Linked DNA regions of Homo sapiens: regions 1, 3 and 4 are each linked to region 2. Evidence: fine-mapped expression QTL. A gene starts in region 2. Each other region holds a variant in brackets. All regions are shown on one strand. Distances are between the middles of the regions.

What was found. PIP is the estimated chance that this variant, and not a neighbour inherited with it, causes the effect.
Region 1: its variant is the best candidate, but not a certain one, in a credible set for the expression of CDK5RAP3 in activated CD8 T cells (Schmiedel 2018, PIP 0.85).
Region 3: its variant is the best candidate, but not a certain one, in a credible set for the expression of CDK5RAP3 in whole blood (TOPMed, PIP 0.57).
Region 4: its variant is the best candidate, but not a certain one, in a credible set for the expression of CDK5RAP3 in monocytes after triphosphate RNA (Kim-Hellmuth 2017, PIP 0.62).

What each region holds. Positions count from the first base shown.
Region 1 is chr17:47,994,891-48,002,854 of GRCh38, reverse strand. No RefSeq gene overlaps it. Among named protein-coding and RNA genes, the nearest start is that of CDK5RAP3, 28 kb to the right of the region's middle. RefSeq lists an enhancer at 7,246-7,844. The variant C/A (reference allele first, on the strand shown) is at 2,861.
Region 2 is chr17:47,965,296-47,973,146 of GRCh38, reverse strand. It overlaps CDK5RAP3 (CDK5 regulatory subunit associated protein 3), which reads right to left and starts at 2,034. Exons shown (of 14, transcript NM_176096.3): 1 at 1,995-2,034; 2 at 1,740-1,785. The coding sequence starts at 2,000. RefSeq lists an enhancer at 1,045-1,672 and a silencer at 2,094-2,383.
Region 3 is chr17:48,453,541-48,461,504 of GRCh38, reverse strand. LOC101927166 (a long non-coding RNA gene) reads right to left here. Exons shown (of 6, transcript NR_110804.1): 3 at 7,251-7,392; 4 at 6,232-6,486; 5 at 5,715-5,767. Among named protein-coding and RNA genes, the nearest start is that of SKAP1, 27 kb to the right of the region's middle. The variant T/G (reference allele first, on the strand shown) is at 4,164.
Region 4 is chr17:48,003,633-48,008,632 of GRCh38, reverse strand. No RefSeq gene overlaps it. Among named protein-coding and RNA genes, the nearest start is that of MIR10226, 27 kb to the left of the region's middle. RefSeq lists a silencer at 4,956-5,000 and an enhancer at 4,991-5,000. The variant C/T (reference allele first, on the strand shown) is at 1,973.

The DNA.
Region 1 (7,964 bases), 30 kb before region 2:
AGAAAGAAAATCCAGGGCAGACATTGTGGGATTATTGTAAAATGCATGGCTGACTATGAGTCAGCAATACAGTGCTATTCTTACAAAAGCAAGCTGCATGCCGGATGCATAAATAAGGAACCTGGGGGTCATTCTCATTATATCTCAGCTGATCAGACAAAAGTTCTTTGTCTTGCTCTGGACTCCAGGGAGCCTAGAGAGTCACAGGCGAGTTTCAAGGGGTTTCTGGGAGAACTGTAGAAATGACAGAAGGATTTGTGAGGCAGAGTGCCCGACTGTATGAATTTTCACTCAGTTTGTCAAGCATTCTCTGTTTTTTTGCCTTCAGCCCCACATATGCTGGTCTTTCTGCCAGGATCTTTGCTCTCCACCCTCCCTTCCACATCCTTGGACTAACTGCTACTTATCCTAAGTCCGCAAATTAGCACTCCTTTCCTTCTTTCCCCTCCCTCCCTTCCTTCCTTCCTTCCTTCCAGTTGAGTCTCACTCTCTTGCTACATGCTGGAAAGCAGTGGTACAAACACCACTCACTGCACCCTCCACCTCCCAGGCTAAAGCAATTCTCTTGCCTCAGCCTCCTGAGTAGCTGGGATTACAGGCACACGCCACCACACCCAGCTATTTATTTTATTTTATTTTATTTTATTGTAGAGATGGGGTTTTGCTATGTTGCCTAGGTTGGTCTCAAATCCCTGGGCTCAAGGGATCCGCCTGCCTCGGCCTCCCAAAATGCTGGGATTACAGGCATGAGCCACCATACCCGACCCTTCATTTCTTCAGGAGGCTTTGCCCCACCCCATCTTACCATCCCAACATCTGCCCTAGCCTGACATCCTGACATGCTATTTTTTTTATTATTATTTTTTAGAGATGAGGGTCTCGCTGTGTCGCCCAGGCTGGAGTGCAGTGGTGCAATCAAGGCTCACTGAAGCACCGTGACCTCCTCCCAGGCTCAAGCAATCCTCCCACCTCAGCCTCTCAAGTAGCTGGGACCACAGGCATGTGTTACCATACCCGGCTAATTTTTTAATTTTTTGTAGAGACAGGGTCTCACTATGTTGCCCAGGCTGGTCTCAAACTCCTGACTTCAAGCGATCCTCCTGCCTTGGCTTCCCAAAGTGTTGAGATTATAGGCATGAGCCACCATTGCAAATTTAACTGTCTGACTCCCTTAAAAGGCTATAAGATGCAAAAGCCAAGGATAGTGTCCATTTTGCTCATCTCCCCAACAGCTACTAAAGGACCTGGTGAGTAGGAGGTGCTGAATTAATTTTTATTGAATGAAGAAATAAACCCAGAACATTCAGGGTGAAGAAAGCAAACTCTGAAATCATCAGTGAAGTTATTATGCAGATGAGAGGCCTAGAAATGCAGCCAAGATTTAGGTTAGCTGTGGGAAAGAACTCTTTTTTTTTTTTTTTTTTTTTGGTCTTTCCCTATTTGCTAAGGGAAAATGAGGAAATCTCTTTTAGAAACAGAAAGAAGACAAAGTCTTATGACTGGTCAGCTGGTGGTAGCCTTCACCCTCTGCTGTGGGAGGTCAGGAGAGGGAGTGTGCTGGTTCCCAAACACCAGACCCCTCCCCAACGGGAGATTTTTAATAATCAGTATGTCTAGAGGCAGGGTAAGAAATTGTACTTTTTATTTTATTTTTTAAAATTATTTATTTATTTATGTATTTATTTTTTGAGACGGAGTCTCGCTCTGTCGCCCAGGCTGGGGTGCAGTGGCGCGATCTCAGCTCACTGCAGCCTCCACCTCCTGGTTTCACGCCATTATCCTGCCTCAGCCTCCCAGGTAGCTGGGACCACAGGCGTCCGCCACCACGCCCAGCTAATTTTTTGTATTTTTAGTAGAGATGGGGTTTCACCGTGTCAGCCAGGATGGTCTCGATCTCCTGACTTCATGATCTGCCCGCCTTGGCCTCCCAAAGTGCTGGGATTACAGGCGTAAGCCACCACGCCCAGCCTATTTTTATTTATTTATTTATTTTTTGAGACGGAGTCTCGCTCTGTCACCCAGGTTGGAGTGCAGTGGTGCAATCTTGGCTCACTGGGTTCACGCCATTCTTCTGCCTCAGCCTCCTGAGTAGCTGGGACTGCAGGCGCCCACCACCTTGCCCGCCTAATTTTTTTGTATTTTTAGTAGAGACGGGGTTTCACCGTGTTAGCCAGGATGGTCTCAATCTCCTGACCTCATGATCCACCTGCCTCGGCCTCCCAAAGTGCTGGGATTACAGGCGTGAGCCACCGCGCCTGGCCTAGAAATTGTACTTTTTAAATTGTCCCAGGTAATGACAATTCTGATGATTGGCAGATAGAAATCACTAGATTAAATGCCAGGTTTCTTTCAGTTACAAACATTTGTTTCTCCTCTCCTTTTCTTTTGCTTGCTGGCATTTTTTCCCACCAGCTAGAAGATATCAGCCCAGCTGATTCTACTAGGCTTGAAAGATAGCAAGCTTGGGAATATTGAAATCTTCACAGAACCTTGGCAAAAATAGCAGCGAAACATGCTTGCGGGGTGGGCCCTTCCACTACATGCAGAATGAGAGCTCCATGTTCACCCCTACCGTCCCCATCATAAAGACCAGACTGAAATACGATTTTAAGCCTGGTTCAGTAGCCCCATTCTACAAAACGGTACTGAAATACAAAAAATGTCATGGTCAGGAACTGCTGGAGCTATGGCTTGAGCCCTGCATTTGAACACTGGCCTCCACTTCCTGGCTAGCATCCTCCCCACCACATAAATTGATGAAGCTTATTTGGCTCCAGCTCTCCCTGGATTCATTCATTCATTCAGCATTCATTCTCCTGCAGTATCTGAATGGATTCAAATGTCACTTCATTTACCTTCA[C/A]CCTGCAGGGCAGAGGCACAGTTGTGGGGAGGTGGGTGACATTCCCTCCCCTAAAGCCATCCTCCTGCCACCCACTGAGAGATCCGCTAGTGAGAGACTGCTCTGGAGGGTGCCACTACCTGCCGAGGCCACCAGAAGGCCTTGGGACCTGCAGGGTTAAGCAACTCCAGAGGTGCTTCCTGGATCATCAAAGTTGACTTGCCCACACAGACAAGGCTCGATTAGCTAAATACAGTCATAAAACCTAAGCCTCATCATTGTTCGTCATTCTTCCTCCTGCATCACCTCTTGTGGCCTGTTACTTAGACTCACAGGATTGAGAGCTGGCACAAATCTCAGACTTCAAGTCCTGGGTTTTGGCAAAGCTTGATGTGTGTGAGGGGAGTGGGGAACCCTTGTTTCAACCAACCAAAGCAGTTCTGTTTATGTGTGTTTTTTTGTTTTGTTGTTTTGTTTTGTTTTGTTTTGTTTTTCAGACAGAGTCTCACACTGTCGCCCGGACTAGAGTGCAATGGCATGATCTCCGCTCACTGCCACCTCTGCCTCCTGGGTTCAAGCGATTCTCCTGTCTCAGCCTCCTGAGTAGCTGGGATTACAGGCATGCGCCACCATGCCCGGCTAATTTTTGTATTTTTAGTAGAGATGGGGTTTCACCATGTTGGCCAGGCTAGTCTCGAGCTGCTGACCTCAGGGGATTCGCCCACCTCGGTTTCCCAAAGGCATGAGCCACTGTGACCAGCCTGTTTATGTGTTTTTATATAACATGTTAGAGTTCTGGCCAGTGTCGTGCTGCTAAAAGTTTACTGGCTGGCTCTCACTTGGAGTGCTGAAGCCCTGATTTGTAGCCTTTGCTTATTTCTGTGGTGTAAATATTTCCACAAAAGCCCATTTCAAGCCACCAACTGGAAATCCCAGTGCAAAGTTGGGAAATGCACATAATTGGCTTTTAGGATCCAGTGCAAGCCAGCTTCAGCATGGCACTGGTTCTGGTCTTTTTTTTTTTTTTTTTTTAAGACAAAGTCTTGCTCTGTCACCCAGGCTGGAGGGCAGTGGCGTGATCTCAGTTCACTGCAACCTCTGCCTCCCGAACTCAAGCCATCCTTCTGCCTCAGCCTCCCGAGTAACTGGGACTACAGGCATACAACACCATGCCCAGCTAATTTTTGTATTTTTAGTACAGACAACGTTTCACCATGTTGCCCAGGCTAGTGTTGAACTCCTGAGCTCAAGTGATCCTCCAACCTCAGCCTCCCAAAGTGCTGGGGTTACTGGCATGAGCCACCGTTGCCCAGCCTGGTCCTTCTTTTTAAAAAGAAGTGTGGGCCAGGCATGGTGGCTCACACCTGTAATCTCAGCATTTTGGGAGGCTGAGGCAGGTGGATCACCTGAGGTCAGGAGTTTGAGACCAGGCTGGCCAACATGGTGAAACCCCGTCTCTACTAAAAATACATTTAAAAAATTAGCCAGGTGTGGTGGTGGGTGCCTGTAATCCCAGCTACTTGGGAGGCTGAGGCAGGAAAATGGCTTGAACCTGGGAGGCGGAGGTTGCAGTAAGCCGAGATTGCGCTACTGCACTCCAGCCTGGGCGATGGAGCAAGACTGTCTCAAAAAAAAAAAAAAAGTGTGAAGACTTTTCTATTACTACCTTTTAAAGATGAGGCAGCTGAGACCTAGAAAGATTAATTGTTGCTGAGAGCCACACAGCTTACTAGGACCAGATTCAAAAGTCCCTGATCCCCGAACCACCAGATGCCACACTCCACAATCCAACTCAGCTGGACTGTCATAGGCAGGGAGGAGAGGAGACAGGCATCACCACAGCAGCACCCAGGCAGGAGCGCAGGGGGCAATCGACAGTGGCCAATGTCAAAATAAGTGGCCAAAGGGTCTCGCAGCCAACCTTTGCTGGGCAAAACCAAACCAAACCCAAACAAACCCCTCAAACTTGAAGAGTCCTATTTTGACCCAACCCTGTTCATGTCCTCAGGGAGTAAATTATTTCCCATTCTGACTTGGATGAAACAAGAAGCATCCTCACCCCTCTTCCCCCAAGTCTCTCTCCCAAACCTACGAAAAGTCCTTGGGCAATGCACTGTATGTGGGTTGAGGGGGTGGGGGAGGAAGTGGGAAAGAATAACCCCTTTTAGACAAGTCCAGGAATAATTATTTCAGCAGCTGTTGTATTTTCTTCCCGGGTAAGGAGCAAGAAGGAAGCGTGGTGCAGTGCTGAGCGGAGGCCTGGGTCTTCAAGAGCCCTGGATTCTCGCTCTGGCTCTTCTACTTATTTGGGTGGATCTCTTCCGCTCTCTGGACATCAACTTCCCTATCTGTACAATGAAAGTCTAGAACTTTCCAGCATCTTATTTATTTATTTATTGAGACAGAGTTTCGCTCTTGTTGCTCAGGCTGGAGTGCAATGGCACAATCTTGGCTCACTGCAACCTCCCCTTCCTGGGTTCAAGCCATTCTCCTGCCTCAGCCTTCCGAGTAGCTGGAATTACAGGAGCCCGCTACCAAGCCCGGCTAATTTTTTGTATTTTTAGTAGAGATAGGGTTTCACTATGTTCGCCAGGCTGGTCTTGAACTCCTGACCTCAGGCAATCCACCCGCCTCGGCCTCCCAAAGTGTTGGGATTACAGGCTTGAGCCACCGTGCCCGGCCCAGCATCTCTTTCTTTTAAAATGCCATGAATTGCCGGGCGCAGTGGCTCATGCCTGTAATCCCAGTACTTTGGGAGGCCGAGGTGGGCGGATCATGAGGTCAGGAGATCGAGACCATCCTGGCTAACATGGTGAAACCCTGTCTCTACTAAAAAAAAATACAAAAAATGAGCCGGGCATGGTGGCAGGTGCCTGTAGTCCCAGCTACTCTGGAGGCTGAGGCAGGAGAATGGCATGAACCCGGGAGGCAGAGCTTGCAGTGAGCCGAGATCGCGCCACTGCACTCCAGCCTGGGTGACAGTGTGAGACTCCATCTCAAAAATAAATAAATAAATAAATAAATAAATAAATTAAATAAAATGCCATGAATCACCGTGGGGGGAAATGGTAGGGAGACCACCCAGTAACGCAATAATGGTTCTCCCCCAACCCTTGCATCCCACTCTTTCACCAGCTTCAACAAAGGCCCTTTCCTTGCACCTCTGAAGATGCTCCTCACTCCATAGACACCCCACAAAGGCCCCCTCCCTCCAGTTTCTCTGACATCTCCCAGGGCTGACTGGGGCTGCCCCAGCCTGGTATCTGGTCTCCTGTGTCCTAGTCATTCCTTGTGTCCGTGTTTCTTCCTTAGGAGCTGGGGTCACCGTGCCAAAGAGGAGGAATGAGAAGTGGGGGTCATCTGTTTTCCATAGCCTCTGCCCATCTACCGAGTCTGGTTTGCCAGAAGAGGGGAAGGAGGATAGGGGTGGGTGGTAAAAGAACCCTGTGACCCGTCCCCCAAACCTGTCCTGCAGCTTCTCACCCGACTGTCTTCTCCTCCAGAAGGAAAATGGGTCACGCTCCACAAGAGCCTGTTATCGCCAACCTGGCCCTGCTGCTGCCTGATAGAGCCCAGCCCTCCCCCGCCAGATCTCATTAAGGGGTCGCTGCTTATGCTTCCCAGCCGCCCCCCATCCATCTTTGGCCATGGATGACAGACTGGGCCTGGAGGCTGATGTCCGGCAGGTGACAGGGTTAATGGCAGAAGAGGGCAGAGGGCAGAGGCCAGCCAACTCACAGTGGCGGGAGGGCAGTCTGGGAGGCCCTGGGTCCACTCCAGTTGGGCAGCCTCACAAATTACAGCACCTGGGGGAGGGATGAGCCCCAGACCCCTCCATCCCCAGGGAAGCAAGGTGGGCAGTATCAGCCACCTTGGGAGCAGATGGTGGGAGGAGAGAATGTTAGCCTGGGAAGAAGAGGAATAAAGACACTTAGAAGGGGAAGGAGAGCTGAAAAGAAGAGGGAGAAATTTCTATATTTGTAGGCTCAGTGAAAACATTGCTTCTTGGATGCCTGGATGCTCTTTGGCAAGAAACACACATTTTGCAGACATGTATGAAGTCAGGTGAGTGTTTTGAAGATGGGTGCCCAGGACCCATTCTGTTTTCCCTCCCAGTTGCCTAGTTCAGCACCTGGCACAGTAGTTAGGAGTAAGGTTCCAGAGTCAAATAATATGAGTCCAAGTCCTTTTCAGGTCCTTTCTGTGGGACACAGGTAAATTACTTAACCTCTCTGAGCTTGATGTTCTCCATGTGTGCAATGTAGCTTTGGTATTACGCAGCTTCTGTGAGGAGAAATGACGCGGCACATGGGAAACACAGCACCTGGTCCTGGGCTGTGCTAGGATTAGCTCCTCTTGGAAGTAGCGGGCTCATTGCTTTAATTACTGCAATCACCTTTGCTGCCTCTCTCCCATCCCCAAGCTTTTCCCAAGCCGTCTGCCTGGGACCTCCCTCGTTTGACCTCATACATGCCTGTGATCACCTCCCGGCCTGCTCGGCTCACTCCCAGGGAGCCACTGAATGCTGCTTTGGGGGCAGCCGCCCCCATCATGGCTCCCAGAGGGGAGGCCCCATGGTGACAAGGGTTAGTCCCTCTGGGCCTTTGAAGCCCAGGGAGGGAAGGGGGAGGGGCTGCCCTGTGCTCCTGACCTGGGGGATGAGGCTCACCCCGCCACCATGGGAGGAGAGCTGAGAAACAATGGGCAGTGGAAGCCCGGCTCCCACGCCGGCCAGCTGGCAGTCAGGAGAGGGGGTGGGGTAAGGGTGGGAGTGTCCCCTCCTCAGAGCAAGCAGAAAGCTTCAAGAGGCTGGGTCTCCCCAAAGGGACCCTGAATGTCAAAGGTATCCTATGGAGACAAGGAGAGAAATTTTTGCAATGTGGCTTCCTGGACAGAGGTTGTCCAGAGGCCCCAAAGATGGGGTGCAGAGAATGCCCCCAGTTCCAGGGACCCCCTCAAGTACACCCCGATCTCAGGGTGGGCAAAGAAGCCAACTAGCACTACTCTGCCCTCCTTCCCAAGCCTGGATGGAGATCCCCCGCTCTGGGGGTGCTGATCGCCTCCATTAGGTCCTCAATCTTGCAAGGATAATGCATGGCCCAGGCTGGGCTGGGGGAGGAGGCCC
Region 2 (7,851 bases):
AGGGCTGGGGTTAACCATGACAATGGAAAATACAAGATGGTTATGCCAAGTACTGGATGAATGAACAGCTGCAAAGCCCCTAATACCTACAGCGCCCTAAGGACTAGATAACATGACTCTGTTGTGAACAGTGAAGTACCACCCTGTACATGTGAATACCAATGGGACTGACCTCTCAAAGTCTGGGCCCAGATTTGTGGCTTCAGAGCCATGCATATTTCCTCAGTGAGAGCTAAGAGCTGAGCTTTGTGGTCAGATGGTCCTGGGTTCTCGTTATCAAGTTTCTTGAGCAAGTCTACTATTCTGTGCCTCAGTTTTCCCACATGTAAAATGGGGAATAATAAGACACTGACTAGAAAAGGGAATGCAGGTAAAACACTGAACAGTGTGCCTGAGACACGGCAAGGACTCAAAAAATGACAGTGATCATTTTTATCATGTCAAGTGCCTAAAACAGCACCTGGTACAAAAAAAAACCCTCAATGAATGGTGGTCATTTTATTGGTCCTTTTCATGACCAAGAACAAGCTCACACACCAAGACTGCACATGGGCTGAAGGGCCAGTACAAATCTGAAGGGAGGCTAAAGAAGCTTCCCCCGTGACCACCAAGCAGGACTGACTAAATGGCACTACAGAGTGGTGAATTCAGAACTTGAACTCTGCCAACCGGTCAAACGCTGGGGTCCCACACTAGTATCAGTTATACTCTCTCTGCTATATTCCTGTAAAGTTTTCAGAAAGAAAAATTCTGTTGATGTCACAGAACTAGAAGCAACGGACTGGGGTAGTCAAACAGACACCATCTTAAGGACAAGATTGGCATCAAATCCATGAATCCAATAAGCATTTTAAAATGCCAGGAGCTGTGTGATCAGATGAAGAGGCCTTCCCTGACTATGAACTGGGGAGGAAGTATGTAAGCCCCATACAGACAACCTGGAGATGGCCTGGACACTAAAAGGTTTTCATTTGCAACTGGGTCTTAGGTCCCTCTTCCTCCTAAAATCAAGGGGGAGGTGGAAGCTTTTTAAATGAGGTTTTTTTTTTTTTTCCTGGCATAATGCAAAAGGCATGGACAGTGGGTCAGACAGACTTAAGTTCCAATTCAGATGTGCCACTTAGTGGTTGACTGTTTTTTGTCTTCTTTTTGAGATGGAGTTTCGCTCTCGTTGCCCAGGCTGGAGTGCAATAGTGAGATCTCTGCTCACCGCAACCTCTGCCTCCGGGGTTCAAGCAATTCTCCCACCTCAGCCTCCCGAGTAGCTGGGATTACAGGCATGTGCTCCCATGCCCGGCTACTTTTTATTTTTATTTTTTTGTATTTTTAGTCATGGAGACATGGAGACAAGGTTTCTCCATGTTGGTCAGGCTGGTCTCGAACTCCTGACCTCAGGTGATTCGCCCACCTCGGCCTCCCAAAGTGCTGGGATTACAGGCATGAGCCACCGCGCCCGGCAGTGGTTGACTGTTTTTAAAGCGAGTCATTTATCCTGTCCCTGAATGATACGATAACATATGTTATTAAAGGAGAAAACGCAGGTCAAACAGACTGTACATATGGTTCGTTCCCGCTGCTATCAGGGAAGCAGGTCTGGCCACAGATGGGGCATAGAACGAGGCCAGTGGTCAGCATCTCGACTCAGGCTTTCAGGGGTCAGAGCTCCCGGCTATTGGACACAGGGGGCAACGCACAGGCCTCCCCCCGACAGCCAGCTGCGCGGTGGCGCCCCCTCCTACCGAGCAGCTTGCTGGTCTGGATGTCGATGGGCACGTGCTGATGGTCCTGGCGGGAAACACGGTGAGGAGGGGGGCGTGAGCGCGGAGAGAGGACGTACCACTCGCGCGCTCATTTCAACGTCCCAACCACCACCCTGCAGGGCCAGAACGGGGCCAGAGCGATGGGCTGGGTTGAGCCGCTTCCGGAGGGAGACCGGAGACACAGGTTAGGGGTCCGCGGCCAGTCCCCAGCACACCCAGCTCCTGTCCCCACACCTCCATCTTTCCTCCACTTCCGCTTCAGGCTGGAGACTGTGGCCCGCCCCGCCCTACCACCAATCCAGTGGCGTTGTGGCCGAGCCTCCGTTTAGACACAAACGGGCATCCTTCGGCCACGTCGCCGCCTTCCGTACAGCCAATCAGGGTTTACGCTCCACTCAGGCCTCAAGCCCCGCCCACCCCAGGCTCCGAATGGCTGAGCTCGGGAGGGGCGGGAGAATGGAGACAGCCAATTGGAGACGCGAGGCGGGCTCAGGGCAGGGGACGGGAGGGGGTGCGCTGCAGCGGCCGTGGGATTGCGACAGGCGGCGCTCGAGAGCCCAGCCTGGCAGCCGCTTCCCCTGGCGGGCACTGGGTCTTCTCCACGCAGATTGAGACGTCTGCTGGCGGGGTCCTAGCGCCGATCTGGGAGGCCGTTGCAAATACCTTCTTCCCTCCTTGCGTCGCTTTACCATCCAGAGCAGTGTGCAGGTCTCTTGTGGCACTTGTCATGCTTTGCCTCCTCATTCAGTTTCTCTAATAGACATGGTTGAGCACCTGCAACGTGTTGGGCGATTAGGGCAGGGAAGGGGAAGGAAGAGAGTCGGTGAGACGTCCCAAAGAGAACACCTACATTGAGTCTAAACGAAGAGCTGAAGATAGCTGGGTGATGTGGGAAGAGGAGTTTTAGGTGGAGGAGACTACACAGACAAAGCTTAGGTGGCCACAAACTGCAAGAGGGGTGCAAGCAACAACAGGCAGGCAGGACGGGCAACGTAATTTGTGAGGTCCAGTGCAAAATGGAAATGCACAGCTGCTTGTTACAAAATGATGAAGAATTTCAAGATGAAGTCGGCTCCGCGGGCAGGCCAACCTCTATACCGTAGATGGTTTGAGGCAGCGAGTGGCTAGAGGAGAGGCTGTAAGGGTGGAAAGGCCATATCAAAGGGAGACTTATTAAGGAACTTGGACTTCATCCCTTCAGACAGAGGAATCACAGAAGGGGTTTGAGGCAGGGAGGAACCTGTACAGATAGGCTGCTGGGATGATGGATGCATGGGAGATAAGACTGGGGACAAGGAGGCTGGAAGGAGGTTGTTATCGAGGGATTATAGCCTGAGCTGGGACACAAGATATGAGGAGGAAGGGGAAGGGCTGGATCTGAGGAATATTTAGGAGGAAAATGTATAGGACTTGGCAATTGATTGGCTGTTTGGGTGGAGGAGAGAGACACTAAGGATGACACCTAGGTGATTAGGTGGGAACCACCACCTGAGACAGGGATGCAGGATGCTGAGCAGGTGTTGGGGAGGAGGGGGTCTAGCTTTGAACCTAGTCTGGCAATGCTGGGAGACCCCCAGATGGAAAGTGTGCAGAAGGCACTTGGGTCTATAATTTTGGAGTTCGAGGGAGTTGTCGGGGCTGGAGATACAGCTTGGAGAGTCACAAGCTGGCTAATCTGTGGTCCGAGTGGTGGCTGAAGCTAAGGGAGAGTCTGAGATTGGCCAAGAAGTGGGTAGAGTAAGGAGGGAGGGTAGGCTGAGGCCAGATCCCCCAGGATCTCACAGCGCTGGGTATGCCTTTTCTTTTTTTTTTTTTTTTTTTTTTTTTTTTGAGACGGAGTCACGCTCTGTCGCCCGGGCTGGAGTGCAGTGACACGATCTCGGCTCACTGCAAGCTCTGCCTCCTGGGTTCACGCCATTCTCCTGCCTCAGCCTCCCCAGTAGCTGGGACTACAGGCGCCCGCCACCACGCCCGGCTAATTTTTTTGTATTTTTAGTAGAGACGAGGTCTCACCGTGTTAGCCAGGATGGTCTCGATTTCCTGACCTCGTGATTCTCCCGCTTCAGCCTCCTAAAGTGCTGGGATTACAGGCGTGAGCCACCGCGCCCGGCCCTGGGTATGCCATTTCTAAATATTCCTTCCCCAGCTCCTGTTCACCACAGCACAACACTTGAGGCTTAGTAAATTTTTGATTGAAATGCATAGTGTGATACAGCAGCAGGAAGACCTAGATTCTGCCCAGTGAGGTCTTGGACCATTTCTATAACCTATCTGATAGCCACAGTTTCCCCACATGGAGATAACAGCTATCCTATCTCAGGGTATTTCTGTTTAGAGGCTTAAATAAACACACTAGTAACTCATGACAGTTTACAACATACTGTGGCTGTATTTCTCATGCTTTGTAAACTCTCCCTATATGAAATATCATATATGGGCCAGGCGCGGTGGCTCACGCCTGTAATCCCAGCACTTTTGGGAGGCTGAGACAGGCGGATCACCTAAGGTCAGGAATTCGAGACCAGCCTGATCAACATGGTGAAATCCCATCTCTGAAAAAAACAAAAAACACGCTGGGCACGGTGGCTCACGCCTGTAATCTCGGCACTTTGGGATGCTGAGGCGGGTGGATCACGAGGTCAGGAGTTTGAGACCAGCCTGATCAACATGGTGAAACCCTGTCTCTACTAAAAATACAAAAATTAGCTGGGCGTGGTGGCGTACGCCTGTAATCCCAGCTACTCAGGAAGCTGAGGCAGGAGAACTGCTTGAACCCGGGAGGCGGAGGTTGCAGTGAGCCGATATTGCGCCACCGCACTCCAGCCTGGGCGACAGAGTGAGACTCCATCTCAAAAACAAAACAAAACAAAAAACAAACAAACAAACAAAAACAAAAACCATCCCGGCGTGGTGGTGCATGCCTGCAGTCCCAGCTACTCAGCTACTCGGGAGGCTGCGGCGGAAGAATCACCTGAACTTGGGAGGCGGAGGTTGCAATGAGCCCAGATTGCGCCACTGCACTCCAGCCTGGGCAACAGAGTGAGACTCCATCTCAAAATATATATATATGTCATATATGATCATTATTATTATAGAACGGATTGAAAAACTGCTCTGAAAATGGCTCATAGAGCTGAATTAAGGGCCTTTTCAGGGATCTTTCATGGGAATTTGGCTCCCATCTGAGTCAGCCTGACTCAGACTGTAGGAATTGCTCAGGCTCCTCCATGATTAAACACACACTTAACTGGGCCCCAACTATGTGCTCGGGGCTGTCTGGGACATCTCAAGAGCAAGGCACTGCCCTGCCCTCAAGGTGTATCTATCTCTCTTCCTTGAACCAACAGGCTGGGCAGAACAGGACAGGGTGGGTCTGGAAGACCCAGCCCAGGTGAGTTGATGGAAGCAGGGACCACCAGCACTTCAGCCCCACCCACAGCTCCCCAAGGTGACTCACGTGGAGCAGAAGGATGTTTGAGAACAGTTCTGCCCAGCTACTGACTCCAGGGAGGCTGTCCCAAAGCCAGAGGCTCTGGGAGAGAACCTGCCTCTGCTGACTGCAGAGGCTCTGGGGGAGAGCCTGCCAAAGGCACATGCTTCTGTGTTCCCAAAGAGTGTAGGAGCATGGGCCTTTGGCGGGTTTCTGCACTTTTCCAAGGCCACAGGGAACTTCAGGGTCTGTGGGTAGATAAGCACATAATTGGTCTGGCATCCAGGGCATCGACTCTATCTCCTTCAGGAGACTTTAGTCATCGGGGCTCCCAGCAGCTAGAAGGAGGCAGAGAGAGGTATGGTAGGTTTCTGACCAGGAATCTCTCAGTTCTCTGCTGATTTAGCAGATGGGACCCTGGGAGAGGGGCAGCACATGTAGAGAGGTGAGGAGGATATACCAGGGCTGCACCAGCTTTGGACAAGGAAGCACAGAGCCCCGAGGCACCGTGTAGGCAGCCTACCTTGCCATCCATTATTGTTGTTGTTAGCTTGCTTATTACGTGATAAACATGCCCACGTGCCAGTGTAGATCTAAATGTTTTACAAGCCTTATCTAATGTGATTCTTCTAACAACCTTATAATGTGGGTACCATCATTAACCAGATTTTAAAGGCAAGGAAGCCAAAGATTAATTACGTAACATGTTGAAAATCATCCAGTGGGCCAGGTGCGGTGGCTCACGTCTGTAATCCCAACACTTTAGAAGGCCAAGGTGGGTGGATCACAAGGTCAAGAGATCGAGACCATCCTGGCTAACACGGTGAAACCCCGTCTCTACTAAAAACACAAAAAATTAGCTGGGTGTGGTGGCACGTGCCTGTAGTCCCAGCTACTCAGGAGGCTGAGGCAGGACAATCACTTGAACCCAGGAGGCGGAGGTTGCAGTGAGCCGAGATCGCGCCACTGCACTCCAGCCTGGGTGACAGAGAAAGACTCCGTCTCAAAAAAAAAGAAAAGAAAAGAAAATCATACAGATCATACAGTGGGCCAGGCGCGGTGGCTCACACATGGAACTCAACACTTTGGGAGGCCGAGGCGGGTGGATCACCTGAGGTCAGAAGTTTGAGACCAGCCTGGCCAACAAGGTGAAACCCCAACTACTAAAAATACAAAATTAGCTGGGCGTGGTGGCACATGCCTGTAATCCCAGCTACTCGGGAGGCTGAGGCAGAAGAATCCCTTGAACCTGGGAGGCAGAGGTTGCAATGAGCCAAGATTGTGCTACTGCGCTCCAGCCTGGGAAACAGAGAAAGACTCAAAAAAAAAAAAAAAAGGAAAATCATACAGTGGGTAGTTGATGAGGCTGGGATTCAAACCCAGGCCTGTTGGGCTACCCAGCCTGCATTCTTCTTCTCTGTGTGATGTGCCTTTGCTTCTCCTGCACCCCTGCCTACCCCTTTGGCTCAGCCACAACAGCTTCAGGTCTCTTCCTCCCTTGGGCCTGATTCCTATTTTCTCCCCAGTTGTTGTGCCAGACACTCAGAACTCCCACCCCTGCAGGCCCTGCCCCTTTCCAAAGTTCATTCTTACCACACCCCATTCTGGGAAAGGGAGCCCATTACTTATCCTCCTGCAATATCCATAAAAGAAGGCTTACTTTCAACATTCAAATAACTCATTTATTTTATCTGCTATATTTTTATTACTTTATGGTCTGTGTGTTTGCTCACAGCCACACTGACTATGGGGTGTGGTGTGTGTGCCTGTGTGTGTGTGGTGTATCTGCCTGCTAGGCTGGAAGCTCTGGAAACATAGCAGCCTTGGGCCTCTTGCTGCCCGGAGTGTAACCACTGTGTTGCTTTTTTCTTTCTTTCTTTCTTTCCTTTTTTTTTTTTGAGACAGAATCTCGCTCTGTCACCCAGGCTGGAGTGCAGTGGTGTGATCTCAGCCCACTGCAACCTCCTCCTCTTGGGTTCAAGCGATTCTCCTACCTCAGCCTCCCAAATAACTGGGATTACAGGCACGTGCCACCATGCCTGGCTAATTTTTGTATTTTCAGTAGAGATGGGGTTTCACCATGTTGGCCAGGGTGGTCTTGAACTCCTGACCTCGTGATCTGCCCACCTTGGCCTCCCAAAGTGCTGGGATTACAGGCGTGAGCCACCGTGCCCGGCATGTTGCGTTTTTCAGTCTGTCTCCCCACCTAGTCTGCGAGTACCTGTGGGCTGGGAAGCCAAAGCAGACTTGTTCATCTCTATAACCCCAGCATCCGGTGTGACTCTTGACATTGAGTGTCAGGAGCTTAATGGATGCTTGTAATGAAGGAAAGCCATATGCAGGAAGGCATTTGATGTTGGTGGTAGTTGTGATAAGTGGGGACCATGATTGCTTTGTCTTGGGACAAGAGGTTCAAGGTCCCCAGATCCTTTTCTCATCCTTTCCTCTACAGCTCAGGACTTGGAGTCAACATCCTCTGAGCCTCTTGGGAGTGAAGGGAGGAAATCAGGGAGAAGAAATTAGGGGTGGTCAGCTTCACGAGTTTGGTACAGACCAGTGAAAGTCTATGTGGGGCCAGTCACCTGGGTCATGCTCTGGGGCCACTCATTTTACCCTTAACTCTGGCAACTCATGCCCTCCTGGCCACCTCATCCCTCCACC
Region 3 (7,964 bases), 490 kb before region 2:
AGGAGTTTGAGACCAGCCTGGCCAACATGGTGAAACCCTGTCTCTACTGAATTTTTTTTTTTTTTTTTTTTTTTTGGGACTGCTACATGCCAGAGTTTGCTGAGTACTGGAGGATAAAGTTGTGAATATGACAAACATTGTTCCTGCCTTTATGGAAACACTTTCTAATGGGGGAGACAGACAAATAAAAAGAAAGAAAATAGGCAAATAAAATAATTGCAAATTGCTAGGAAATAAATAATTTATAAACTGCTAGGAAAGAAAGATAAGAGAAAATAAGGCAGTTCTATGACTTTTTTTTTTCCTCAAGGCTGAATCTTGCTGTTACCCAGGCTGTAGTGCAATAGTGCGATCTTGGCTCACTGCAACCTCTGCCTCCTGGGCTCAAGAGATTCTCCTGCCTCAGTCTCCCAAGTAGCTGGGATTACAGGTGTGCACCACCACACCTGGCTAATTTTTTGTAGTTTTAGTAGAGACAGGGTTTCACTATGTTGGCCAGGCTGGTCTCAAACTCCTGACCTCATGATCTGCCTGCCTCGGCCTCCCAAAGTGCTGGGATTACAGGTGTGAGCCACCACACCTGGCTCAGTTCTATAATATTTTAATTAGGCTTCCAAACTCTCATCTCTCCCATTGCTACTTTTCTGGTTCCTGAAGACGATCACTTCTTAAGGACCCACCTTCTAATAGCTCCAATAAGGAAAACCATAGATGATACTTTGTAAATGCAAATAATTCCCTGAATGCACCTCTATTTTATTCATCTAAATATATAGTAAACAATTCAAGCTAGATTTGGACATTTAGAATCAAAGATGTAATCTAGTGATCCCTCATTTGGACCACAAATGAGATAGATCTTTACATTAATGTATGACGGATTTAGGTTAGACACAATGAAGAACTTTGCAGCAAAAGTTCAGTGGAACAGGTACCTGAGGGAGTGTATCAGTCAACTTTACTAAAATAATGCTGCATAACAACTAATCTAAAATCTCAGAAATTTATAACATTTATTTTTTGCTCACAGGTTTGTGGATTGGCTGCAGTGATTCTGTTCAGGTTGTGAATCTTGTTCAGGTCTGCTCCATGTAACTTCTCATTCTGGGACTCAGGCCGAAGTGACAAGGGCATGCTCTTCTCGTGGCAAAGGGTAGAGGTGCAAGAGACCAAGCTTAACCAAGCAAGTAGAGTTAAAGCCTCTGTTTACATTCCATTGGCTAAAACAAGTCACATGGCTAGACCCATCATCAATGGAGTGGGGAAGTTTGCTCCCCCAACGGAGGGAAATAGAGAAGAATGAATGTTTGCTGAGCAATAATACACTCCACCACAGGGAGGTTATGGAGTTTCCTTCACAAGTGGTCTTTACAAATAGAAGAGGTTGTTATCTCTCTGGGTTCCTCTGGGTACCATATTACCTGAAGTATAGCAAAGGAAGACCAGAAGACATGATTTCTTAAAGATGCCTGTTTTGGTACAAGGGCAATGTAATTTGTGTTTGATATCTGGTTGCCACTGAATCCCCTTTTCCTTTTCCACCAGAGCTGTGCCATGGGGGTGATTTCCAGGCCAAGTCTTAATATCAGAGTCTCTGCATGATTGTATACAAGTGACAGTCACACAGCAAACATAAATACAGATGGCTCTGATACCATCGGGGAACAGTATTCCTGCCATCGGGCCAGTTTTGTCTGCTGCTACAGTGCAGTTAACTCTGGAATGAAATTGGAAAACTAACTGATGGTCAGAGAGGACTGGAAAGATTTTCATTTGTAACTGAGACAGGCAGGGCTCAGCAAAAGGTGATGCAAGAGCAGATTTTACCATAGGCTCAGTAAATCCAGCTAACAAACATGCATGCATTGTATTGAATCACTTAAGGATCTAAATATTTGAATGTATTCAAATGGAAAGACGTGATTGTGCACTCACACCCTCAGCAGTTTTTGACTCCAAGGCTTCATATTCTGTACCCTTTGCACCCTTGGTGATAACCTTTCCTTCTTCTACCTCAGTGTGCTCATTCTCCCTCTTCTCCCTCCCCAATATCTGTTATCAGGAACTCCTTAGGTCCTACTGAAAGTATAGTCCCCAGACCAGCAGTAGCTGGTCTCAGGTGCATCACCTGAGAGCCTGTTAGAAATGCAAATTTTGGGGTGCATTCCCCAGACTTGCTGAATCAGAATCTCTGGGTTTGAGGTGGGGAACAGTTGTCTCAGGAAATTGTGTTTTCATAAGCTCTTCAGATGAGAAGTTAAGCACATACACAGAAGTTTGAGAACTAGGGCAATTCTGACTCAGTAGGTCTGGGTGAAAGCCATGACCTGCGTTTCTAACAAGCTTGCAGATGATACTGATGCTGCTGTCTGTGGACCACACTTTGAGTAGCGCTGCTTTAGAACTCAATTACATACACATGAAATGATGGCCAACAGTTAAAAGCCTTACTGGTCCTAAGTGGATAGGATCAAAGTCTTAGTGAATAAAATGAGCCACTAATGGTGGAATTTTACGCAACAGCCACCAGGTTTTTTTTAAAGTATGTTTTGAGCCGGGCATGGTGGTTCACACCTGTAATCCCAGAACTTTGGGAGGTCGAGGCAGGCGGATCACTAAAGGCCAGGAGTTTGAGACCAGCCTGGCCAACATGGCGAAACCCCATCTCTACTAAAAATACAAAAATTAACTGGGTGTGGTAGAGTGTGCCTGTAATCCCTGCTACTCAGGAGGCTGAGGCAGAAGAATTGCTTGAAGCCAGAGGTGGAGGTTGCAGTGAGCCGAGATTGCGTCACTGTACTCCAGCCTGGGCAACAGAGCAAAACCCTGTCTCAAAAAAAAAAAAAAAAAAAAAGGAAATGTATATTTTGGTCAGAGGGTGGGCCTGGAGCCTCTGAAGCCACACTGTGTGTGATTACCTTCCATCCCACATACAGAATCCATCCTGTCAATGGATGATTAAAGAATGAATGTAGCACGGGGGGAAAGCACTGGGCTGGGAGTGAGGAAATCTGGGTTCCAGTTCTTGCGCTGTCACTGAGATTGTGCACGTGGTTGGGTCCCTTACCTCTCTCATACTCATCTATATAACTGAAAAAATGAACTGATGAGAGATACACAATCTCCAGCATCCCTGCCCCACTGTGCCCACTTTTTCGCCTTGGTTTTTCAAAAATGTTTGTGGGTAAATAGTAGGTGTATACACTTATGAGGCACATGAGATATTTTGGTACAGGCATGCAATGTGTAAGAATTATATCATGGAAAATGGGTATCCATCCCCTCAAGCATTTATCCTTTGTGTTACAAACAATACAATTATACTCTTAGTTGTTTCAAAATGTACAATTAAAGTATTATTGACCATAGTCCCCCTGTTGTACTATCAAATATTAGGTCCTATTCGTTTTTTCTATTTTTTTTTTTTTTGTGCCCATTAACCACCCTACCTCCCCCTCAGGCCCCCCACTACCCAGCCTCTGGTAACCATCCTTCCACTATCTCCAGGAGTTCAATTGTTTTCTTAGATCCCACAAATAAGTGAGAATATGCGATGTTTGTCATTTTCCATCTCTTTAAAAATTATACAAGGTTATGATTACCTTAGCAAAGATTTCCTTTCCAGACGAGTAAGCGAGTCTCAAAAAATGGTAAACCAAAGCTGCAGAATTGAGGGCCCATAGAGTTGAATGCTGTGAACCATGAGTAGAGTTGCGCCCGACTCTAACCATCCCACCACACCCGCCTTAGTGCCTACTCAGGGTCGGGGTCTCCACTTCCCACTTCCTAACTGGGTGACTTGGGGCAAATTACTCTCTCTCCTGGAACTGTGGTTTTCTATTCCATAAAATGAAGATGAAAATAACACCTACCTAATAGGGTTGTTGTGAGGTTTAAAATCATTAATACATGTCAAGTGCTCAGGACAGTGTCTGGCACGAGAAGAGCATTCGATAAATGTCAGGGACTATTATTACTCCAGGAGGAGGAGGGGCCGCCCTCATCAGCCCCCGCCACAGACTGTTGAAATCTCAAGCCCAAGCTGCAGGTCTTCCTCTGTCCTGTAGGTGGCGCCTCCCCGCGTTGAGCGTGCCACCTGCGTCCTGGAGCGCTTCGAGAAAGCGGAAAGAAGTAAGTTTTCACATCTCTGCTCAGTTCAGGAT[T/G]GCTAGAGAGGAATCTTCTGCAGTCACCTGAAGCCTGTGCCCAGGACAACCAGGTTTTGGGATCCGATTTCCTTCCTGGAGTGGCTTTAAATCCATTTCTCGCTGCACCCCACCCCCATCACCTGGGCGCCTCCCCTGCACCTGCAACCCAGAAAGACTCCTCCGAGGATTGCACTCCCAGCACCTGAGGTAGGCAGTTGAGTGGGAGTTTCTTTGCTGCTCGGTTAAAATGACAAGTTGGTACACGAGTGCTTAATGAAAGATGCTGGAAACCTCCTTGGAGATCAGAAAAATCGCCTCTCCGAGCTGACAGCCAGGCCATCTGCATTCCCGCATTCCTATTAATTCCTTAACAATAAACGACAGGAGCGCCTAGAGGGTTAACAGCTTAATTTAATCTCTGAGATTCCTTCCTGGAGCATTGAGAATTAGAAAGGCATTTACACAACGTAATCTGCACACCTGATTTTTCCTCACTTGATGTGTCTGGGACTAGTCACACCCATTTCTGACACATCTCCAGACAGAGGCTCTGCCTCTCTGGCTGATGACTGCATAGTCGCCACAGGTTGCTGTGGACTCTGAACCACGTGACTGGACTCTTAGTGTCACAAGATCTGGCTTCTTAGCAGCTGCCCCCATAGTTGCTTTACATTATGTTCCCAGGGCCTTTCAGGGACAGGAAGGTCCCCAAATAGAGATAGAAAGGTGGTGCCCAGTTGGGAGTGAATTTCCTTCCCTTGTGGGAAGCAAGGCAAAAATGGGAAGAGGTACGTGGTAGCAGCAACCAGCTTGGAGAGCTGTGAGGTCAGATTTTGAGAGTCCCTGGCAGATTGAGAACTATGCTTTGGAAATGCTTGACTCTAATGCCAGTCCTCTCATTTTATGGGTAAGGAAACTGAGACTTGGAAATGTCTAATAAATTTGTTTAGGCCCTATGTCCAGGTAATGTCAAAGCCCCAAAGTAGAATTCAGGTCTTTTTACTCCTGGACAAATATTTGTTTCACGATAAGGTTGGCAAATAGATTTCATCTTGCATGGTAACTCCCATCATAGGCTGGTAGGGGCTGCCCAGGGCCCTATGGGCTTCTCAGGGTATGTCCAGGCATAGCAGGAAAAGCCTCAGTGACCATTTGAAGATGTCTTCCAGGAACAGGGAAGGAGCAAAGGTGCCAGATATTTGCTATCCCTGCATTTTTCATGCTGTTTCCTTCAGGTTAAAGCATTTAAAGGCTCTATTAAAATGGAAATGTTAGCTGGGAGGGGTAATGCATTAAGCCATTATCTGTCATTAACACCTTGGGTAAAATACATTGAAGATTAGTTTGCTAGTTGCCCAGCAGGTCCCTGGAGGAATGACAGTTTTGACCCAGATAGGGGCCAGGGAAATGACACACAGCCCTGCCCATAGGGGTGCAATATTTGGAGGCCCACTGCAGATAGGAGTTAGGTTGAACACACTGGATATCTAGTGGAAAGAACTCTGAGGGACCAAGTTAGGGAAAGAAGTGACCCTGAAGACATTTTTGCACAATTCTCTCTTGGTTTACCTTGTATAACACAGTTTCTACCAGTCACATTGCTTGATCCTTCGTCTCTCCACCTGTAAAATAAAATTAAAATTTTAAATACCAATGCTTGGCTCCTACCCCAAGCCAATTAAATCAGAATGTCCAGGAATGGGACCCTGCTCTCCCTTTCCCCCAACACTTCTCTATAGAACATTCTGGTCTTGGTATTAGTCATCGTACTGAAACAGGAAATTTTCCTTGACCCCTTCATGGACCTTGCAACAGGGGTGCCTCAGTTACTTAGCCCCCAGCTCTCAATCCCTCACAGGAGGGGGAGCACACAAGTGAGCAGGTGCAGGAGCCAGAGTGACTGCTTTTGGGTGCTGGCAGGAGCAAAACTGTGCAGCCCTGCAGCAGCATCTGTGGGGGTACCCGCAACCTCTGAAGACCCAGAGGGCATGTGTTACAGTGTGCTCTTTTAGCTTTTCTGTCCATGAATGGCTTAAGTGTTAACAGCTCAGTGGAGGGTCAGTGTGACAACCTTTTGCACCCATACCTGAGTCCTTGCAACCAAGGTTGCATGAAAAAATTGAAGGGTGATGAATGCGGAGAATTTTATTACTGATGAAAGTGGCTCCCAGCAGGATGGGGAGCTGGAAGGGGGATGGAGTGGGAAGGTGATCTTCCCATGGAGTCCAGCAGTCCCCTGCTGTACACTTCTCCTAAGTCCCACCATCAAGCCATTCCTCTGAAGTCAAGCTGTTTCTTTCCAATGTCTGGCTACTTCTTCTCTTCTCTCCTTCTTTGCCATCTGCCAGTTGGGCCAGGGGATTTAATGGGTACAGGATGAGGGGTGAGACAGGTCATGGTGATTTTGGAAAAGGCAACATTTGAGCAAGAAAATAGGAATGCATGCTCTCACTTTGGACCGCGGTTCTAGGCTTGAGGGTGGGGCTTCGCCAGGGACCCTGCCCTTTTCTGCCGAGAATTTCCCTGCTTCCTGCCCCTACCAATACCATCCTGTCCTTATCCACACACTAACATATTTTATGTACTTACAATGATATAGATTCTGTATCATTTTATATTTTGAATGTGTCAAAATGCAGAAGCAGGTAACAAAAAACTAAAAGTGTCAATAAAAGTTCTTACTCTCTCACAAAATAAGAAATGTAGAGGTCTTATTTTGGTTCATCAGCTGAAAAATGCTATGACTGACCAGGCTTCCTTCATCCTTTTGCTTTTCTACCTTCAGTGTTGGCTCTTGGTCTCTAGGCTTGCATGGTTGCCATGGTTGAAGAAATCATGTGCTCATACAACTATATTCATAGACATGAATGAAAGAGTAGGAGCCTCATGCATACTCGTCTTTTTAACTAGAATAAAAATGTCCTCAGACGTCTCCCAGTAGTCTTCCCCTTCCTCTCCTTGGCCAGAACTGTGTCATGTGGCCTAATATAATCTGAATGTTTGTGTCCCTTCAAAATTCATAAATTGAAATCTAATCCCCAATGCAATATTTTAAGAGGTAGGGCCTTTAGGAGGCGATTAAGTCATGATGGTGGAGCTTTGTACCTTTGTAAAAGAGGCCCAAGGGAGCTTGTTCACTCCTTCCATCATGTGAAGAAGCAGCAAGAATGCACCACCTATGAAGCTGAGAACACGCCTTCATCTGAATCTGCTGGTACGTTGATCTTGGACTTCCCAGGCTCCAGAACTGTGAGCAATAAATTTCTCTTGTTATGAATTATCCAGTCCGAGGTATTTTGGTGTAGCAGCATGAATGGACTAAGACAAGGCCATTCCTAGTTGTAAGGGAAACTGAGAAAGCAATAATCTGGTTTTTCAGTCTCTGTCGTGAGAAGCAGCTCTGCCAGAAGTATATTTGAGAAGCAGTAAGTATATTTGAGAAAACATGGAACAAAATTAAATATCTATAACAGCATTTGAGGACTTAAATGCAGCTGCTACTTTATATACTACTTTCTTTACCAACTAAAGCCATTTTCTTCATATCTGTGGTTCTAGCTCCTGAGACCACAACTTCCTACCTAGGCAGGAAGTATAAAAGAAGATCAAGGCCATTTAGATGTGTTTGTTAATTTGTGCTGTGACTATAAATGTCTTCCTGAACAGCAGACTCTTGTCATCTGGGATCTGATTCCTCCACTTCATCTTGCTAACTAACCTCACAGTGTTGAGACCTTCATCATACTCTTGAACAAGGGAGACTGCCCACTTTCTGGGATCTGTGCTTTCATCTCTAGATCCCCAGACCTGGTGTGTGTC
Region 4 (5,000 bases), 37 kb before region 2:
AAAATGCATATGTAAACATGTAGATAGATAAGGATGAAATGAATGGAGCAAAATGTAAACAATTGATGAATCTGGGTAAAGGGCACATGGGAGTTCTTTGTACTATTTTTGACATTTTTTTATAAGTTTGAAATTTATCAAAATAAAAAGTTACCAAAAAACCAACTATATAGCCTCCATCTGAAGGAGAGAGATTCATTTAGATGTTGATTCTTTCTTTCTTTCTTTTTTTTTTTTTTTGAGACAGAGTTTCGCTCTGTTGCCCAGGCTGGAGTGCAGTGGTGCCATCTCGGCTCACTGCAAGCTCCGCCTCCCAGGTTCACGCCATTCTCCTGCCTTAGCCTCCCAAGTAGCTGGGACTACAGGTGCCCACCACCACACATGGCAAATTTTTTTTTTGTATTTTTTTTTTAGTAGAGACAGGGTTTCACCATGTTAGCCAGGGTGGTCTTGATCTCCTGACCCCGTGATCGGCTCACCTCAGCCTCCCAAAGTGCTGGGATTACAGGCATAAGCCACCGTGCCCGGCCAGATGTTGATTCTTTCAAAATGGTCCTCTTAGGAGGCACTGTACTTTTCAACACTTTATCAGGATTGGGTGAAAACATGAAAGACAAGCTCATCAGCTCTGTGGATGACACACAGCTAAAAGAGAGAATTAATGTTTCGGGTGACAGGCTAAGGATTTAATAAGATCTTAGCAGGATGGAAACATTGGCCGAAATCGAACACAGTTTAACATGATGTATGCTCCATCAGTGTTAAATTGAGTTGAGTGAGGTGAAATTTAAAAGAATTAAATAAGTTTTATACTTGTCACCAAAAGAGTTAATTCAGTAGGAATGAGGAAGACATGGTCTAAGAGTGACATATACTAAAAACAGTAAGTTTAGTTGCCTGCAACCTCAATATGCTGATATGATAGAGAAGCTACTATGGGCCGGGCATGGTGGCTCACACCTGTAATCCCAGCAATTTGGGAGGCTGAGGAGGGCAGATCACATGAGGCCAGGAGTTCGAGCCAGCCTGGCCAACATGATGAAACCTTGTCTCTACTAAAAATACTAAAATTAGCTTGGCGTGGTGGTGTAATCCCAGCTACTGGGAGGCTGAGGCACAGGCATTGCTTGAATCCGGGAGGCGGAGGTTGCAGTGAGCCGAGATTGTGACACTGCACTCTAGCCTGGGAGACAGAGTGAAACTCTAAACAAACAAACAAATAAAACTGCTGTGATCTGCGTCTGCTGTAAAAAATTATAGATTCTGAGCTGCATTAATAAAATACAGTCTTTAGAACAAGGGAGGTGATGGTCTTTCTTTATCCTGTGCCCTTTGGAATTAATCTTTAGGTCTGGGGCACTATTTATAAAGAAAGGCATTGCTAATGAAAAAGCCTATGGGATATATAAACAATAGTGAGATTTTGAAAGGAGAGCACTTGAGGAATAGGTGAAGGAATTAGGAATGTTTAACTCTCAGGGATTCCTTTTGGCTGCCTTCTAGACATTTGATTGGCATCTGAACTGTGGAGGAAGATTTACATATTCTCCATCAATTCACACAATGAAAAAAGGACAGAAGGAGGTGAATTACAGGGAAATAGTCTCTGGTTTAGTATGAGAAAGATTTTTCTAAACATTAAAACAGGGCCAGGCGCGGTGGCTCACGCCCGTAATCCCAGCATTTTGGGAGGCCGAGGAGGGCGGATCACGAGGTCAGGAGATCAAGACCATCCTGGCTAACACGGTGAAACCCCGTCTCTAATAAAAATACAAAAAATTAACCCGGCGTAGTGGTGGGCGCCTGTAGTCCCAGCTACTCCTGAGGCTGAGGCAGGAGAATGGCGTGAACCCGGGAGGCAGAGCTTGCAGTGAGCCGAGATGGCACCACTGCACTCCAGCCTGGGTGACAGAGCCAGACTCCATCTCAAAAAAAACAAAAACAAACAAACAAAAAAAAAACATTAAAACAG[C/T]CTGAAAATAGAAAGGTATTACCTAGTGAGGTAATAAGTTATCTGTGGCTGGAAGTATCCAAAGAAGGCTATTATGAGGGCTACTATAATAATAATTCTTGCAACAGGAAGGACCCTAGGTTAGGTAGACTGCTGGTCTGTTGAACTCTAAAGTTCTAGGTAATTACATGTCTATTTAGAAACAAAAACAAAAACAAAAACAAAAAAACACCTACCAGCCTCTCTTCTCTGTGGTCTTTATTATATAATGTTTACAGAAACTGCCCACACACCCACTGATTGTATAAAGCTTGGGACTGGACTGGGAGCTTCTTCATTTTGAATTCCTTGCTTCCCTACCCCATCTCTTTTCCAGCCTTCCATCCTGCCCCTTAGTTGCCTCTGTCCAGAACTTTCCATGTCTGCCTGCAGGATGGGACTTCTTGAGAGATCTGTAATATTGAAAATTCTGCCAGGCACAGTCGCTCATGCTTGTAATCCCAGTACTTTAGGAGGCTAAGGCGGGCGGATCACTTGACACAAGAAATTCGAGACCAGCCTGGCCAACATGATGAAACACCGTCTCTACTAAAAATACAAAAATTAGCTAGGCGTGGTAGCACGTGCTTATAATCCAGCTACTTGGGATGCTGAGGCACGAGAATTGCCTGAACCCAGGAGGTGGAGGTCAAAGTGAGCTGAGATTGTGCCACTGCACTCCAGCCTGGGCAACAGGGTGAGACTGTCTCAAAAAAAAAAAAAAAAAAAAAGAGGCCACATGCAGTGGTTCATGCCTGTAATCTCAGCACTTTGGGAAGCCAAGGTGGGCGGATCACTTGAGGTCAGGAGTTCGAGACCAGCCTGGCCAACATGGTGAAACCCCGTCTCTATAAAAAATACAGAAGTTAGCCAGGCATGGTGGCACGTGCCTGTAATCCCAGCTCCTTGGGTGACTGAGGCAGGAGAATCGCTTGAACCCGGGAGACAGAGGTTGCAGTGAGCCGAGATGGCGCCACTGCACTCCAGCCTGGGTGACAGAGCAAGACTCCATCTCAAAAACAAAAACAAAAACAGGACAAAAAACAAAAAAAAAAAAAAAAAAAGCTGGGTATTGTGCCAGTCTCCCTACTGAGGCTGACTCTAACCCATAGCTGACTGGCATTTGCTCTCAGAGCACAGTTTCTGCATTTGAGGAATTTCGCTGGAATCCCAGCACTCTTCTTAGTGTGGCAGAAGGCAAGGTGAAGGTGTGAGTTAGTGGAATATGTGGGTTCTAAACACCAAGCGGAGCAAACCCCCAAGGATGGACAGCACATCTCAAGAGCAAAGGAAGGTAGAAAACAGAGATCAGAGACAGCCTCTCTTTCTCTCCTGTAGCCTTTCCCCCCAGTTCTTTTCTGTTTTAATCACAGGAAGAGTGATTAGTCAGCCGAGGAAGGATGGGGGAAGAAAGCAGATGAGTTTTATCTGGCTGGGGTCTGCCCAAGCTGCAGCCATGTGACTACCTGGCTGACCTGGGGTCTCCATCATGTCCCTGCCTGTCCACAAGACGGATCAGGCTGCCCTTCTCTGCAGCACCCACCCCCGCCCCCATTCCAGGAGAGGGTTGCTAGGATAATTATAGCCTACTTGTTTCTCTCTCTCCCTCTCTCTTATTCCTGTAGGTCCTGGACATTTTTTACTTTCTCAGAGGACTGGGGAACTTCTTCAACACTGTAGTAAACTAGAATCTGGAAAGTTCCTTCCAGCAGAAATGAGGAGGTTAAATTCTCAGAAATGATTTCTATTTTTTACCCTTCTCTACCCACCTCCCTCCCAATGTTAACTGGGAACCTATTGCTTTGCCCTTCATTTCAACAACACAGAGCCTTTCCCCAAATATTCAGGCCTCTCTGTCATCCTTAAAACTGCTCCCCTCGACCTGCTGGGCTCAAGTGACTCACTCACCTCAGGCTCCTGAGTAGCTGAGACTACAGGCATGCACCACTTCTGGCTAATTTTTATATTTTTTGCAGAGACGGGGGTCTCATCATGTTGCCCAGTCTGGTCTCGAACTCCTGGGCTCAAGCTATCTGCCCACCTTGGCCTCCCAAAGTGCTGGGATTACAGGCATGAGCTACTGTGCCCAGCCTCGGGTATCTCATGCAGTATTGAAGGAAACAGACCTGGCTTTGAATCCTAGTTCTATCAGTTGCAAGCTCTGTGACCTTGGATAAGTGGCAAAATCTCTCAGAGGATCCATTATTCCACTTGTGAAATGGGAATAATTATACCCATTCACACAATTTTTGTAAAAATTCAACAAAATAATGCATGTAAAGCTCTTAGCCAATGACTGGCAAAGTAAGTGCTCAAAAGATGGCAACTACTGCTCCTAGGGCTCACCTTTGTTTGTGCTAAGTGGATGAAGCAAAAGGAGATGGCAGGGGTTAAGGGAAACACACCAGAAAGGAGGCTCACAGAGGAGATGCTGAAAGGGATGGATTTGGTTAATGTAGGACAGATGGCGGAGAAGGAGGAAGAAGACGGGGAGAAGGAAAGGGGAAGGAAAAGGCTCATTGGAGACTAGCCTGGCAGAGTAAGAGAGAAAGTTGGGATGCACAGAACAAGACAGAGCACGGGAAAGGGATGGACAAAGAGCAGATGGGAGAGGAAGACAGAATGACAAAGACGCGGAGGGCGGGGGAAACCCAGCTGGTGTGAAACAGACAAGAGGTGCTGGAGAAGACAGAAGAAAAAGAGAAAACCAAGGGGTGGGGGGCGGTGTCAAAATGAGACAGGGAAGCAGGGGCAGGACAGACAGACTGAGAGCGAGTTGGGAAAGCACAAGACGGACAGACAGATGGCAGGGACAAGAGGGTGCCCTGGGTTGCCTGCATTCTGCTGTGTTTACCAGCTAATTGAGTTAAATTGTTGTCAGAGATGTAATTAAAGGGTAGAGAGAGCTCTCTGGCAGGCCCGAAACAGATGGAGGGGGCTTTAATTGGTAATTAAATTCTTCCCTGGCAGCTGAGGAAGGAGCTTGTGCTTCAGTCTCACAAGGCCACGG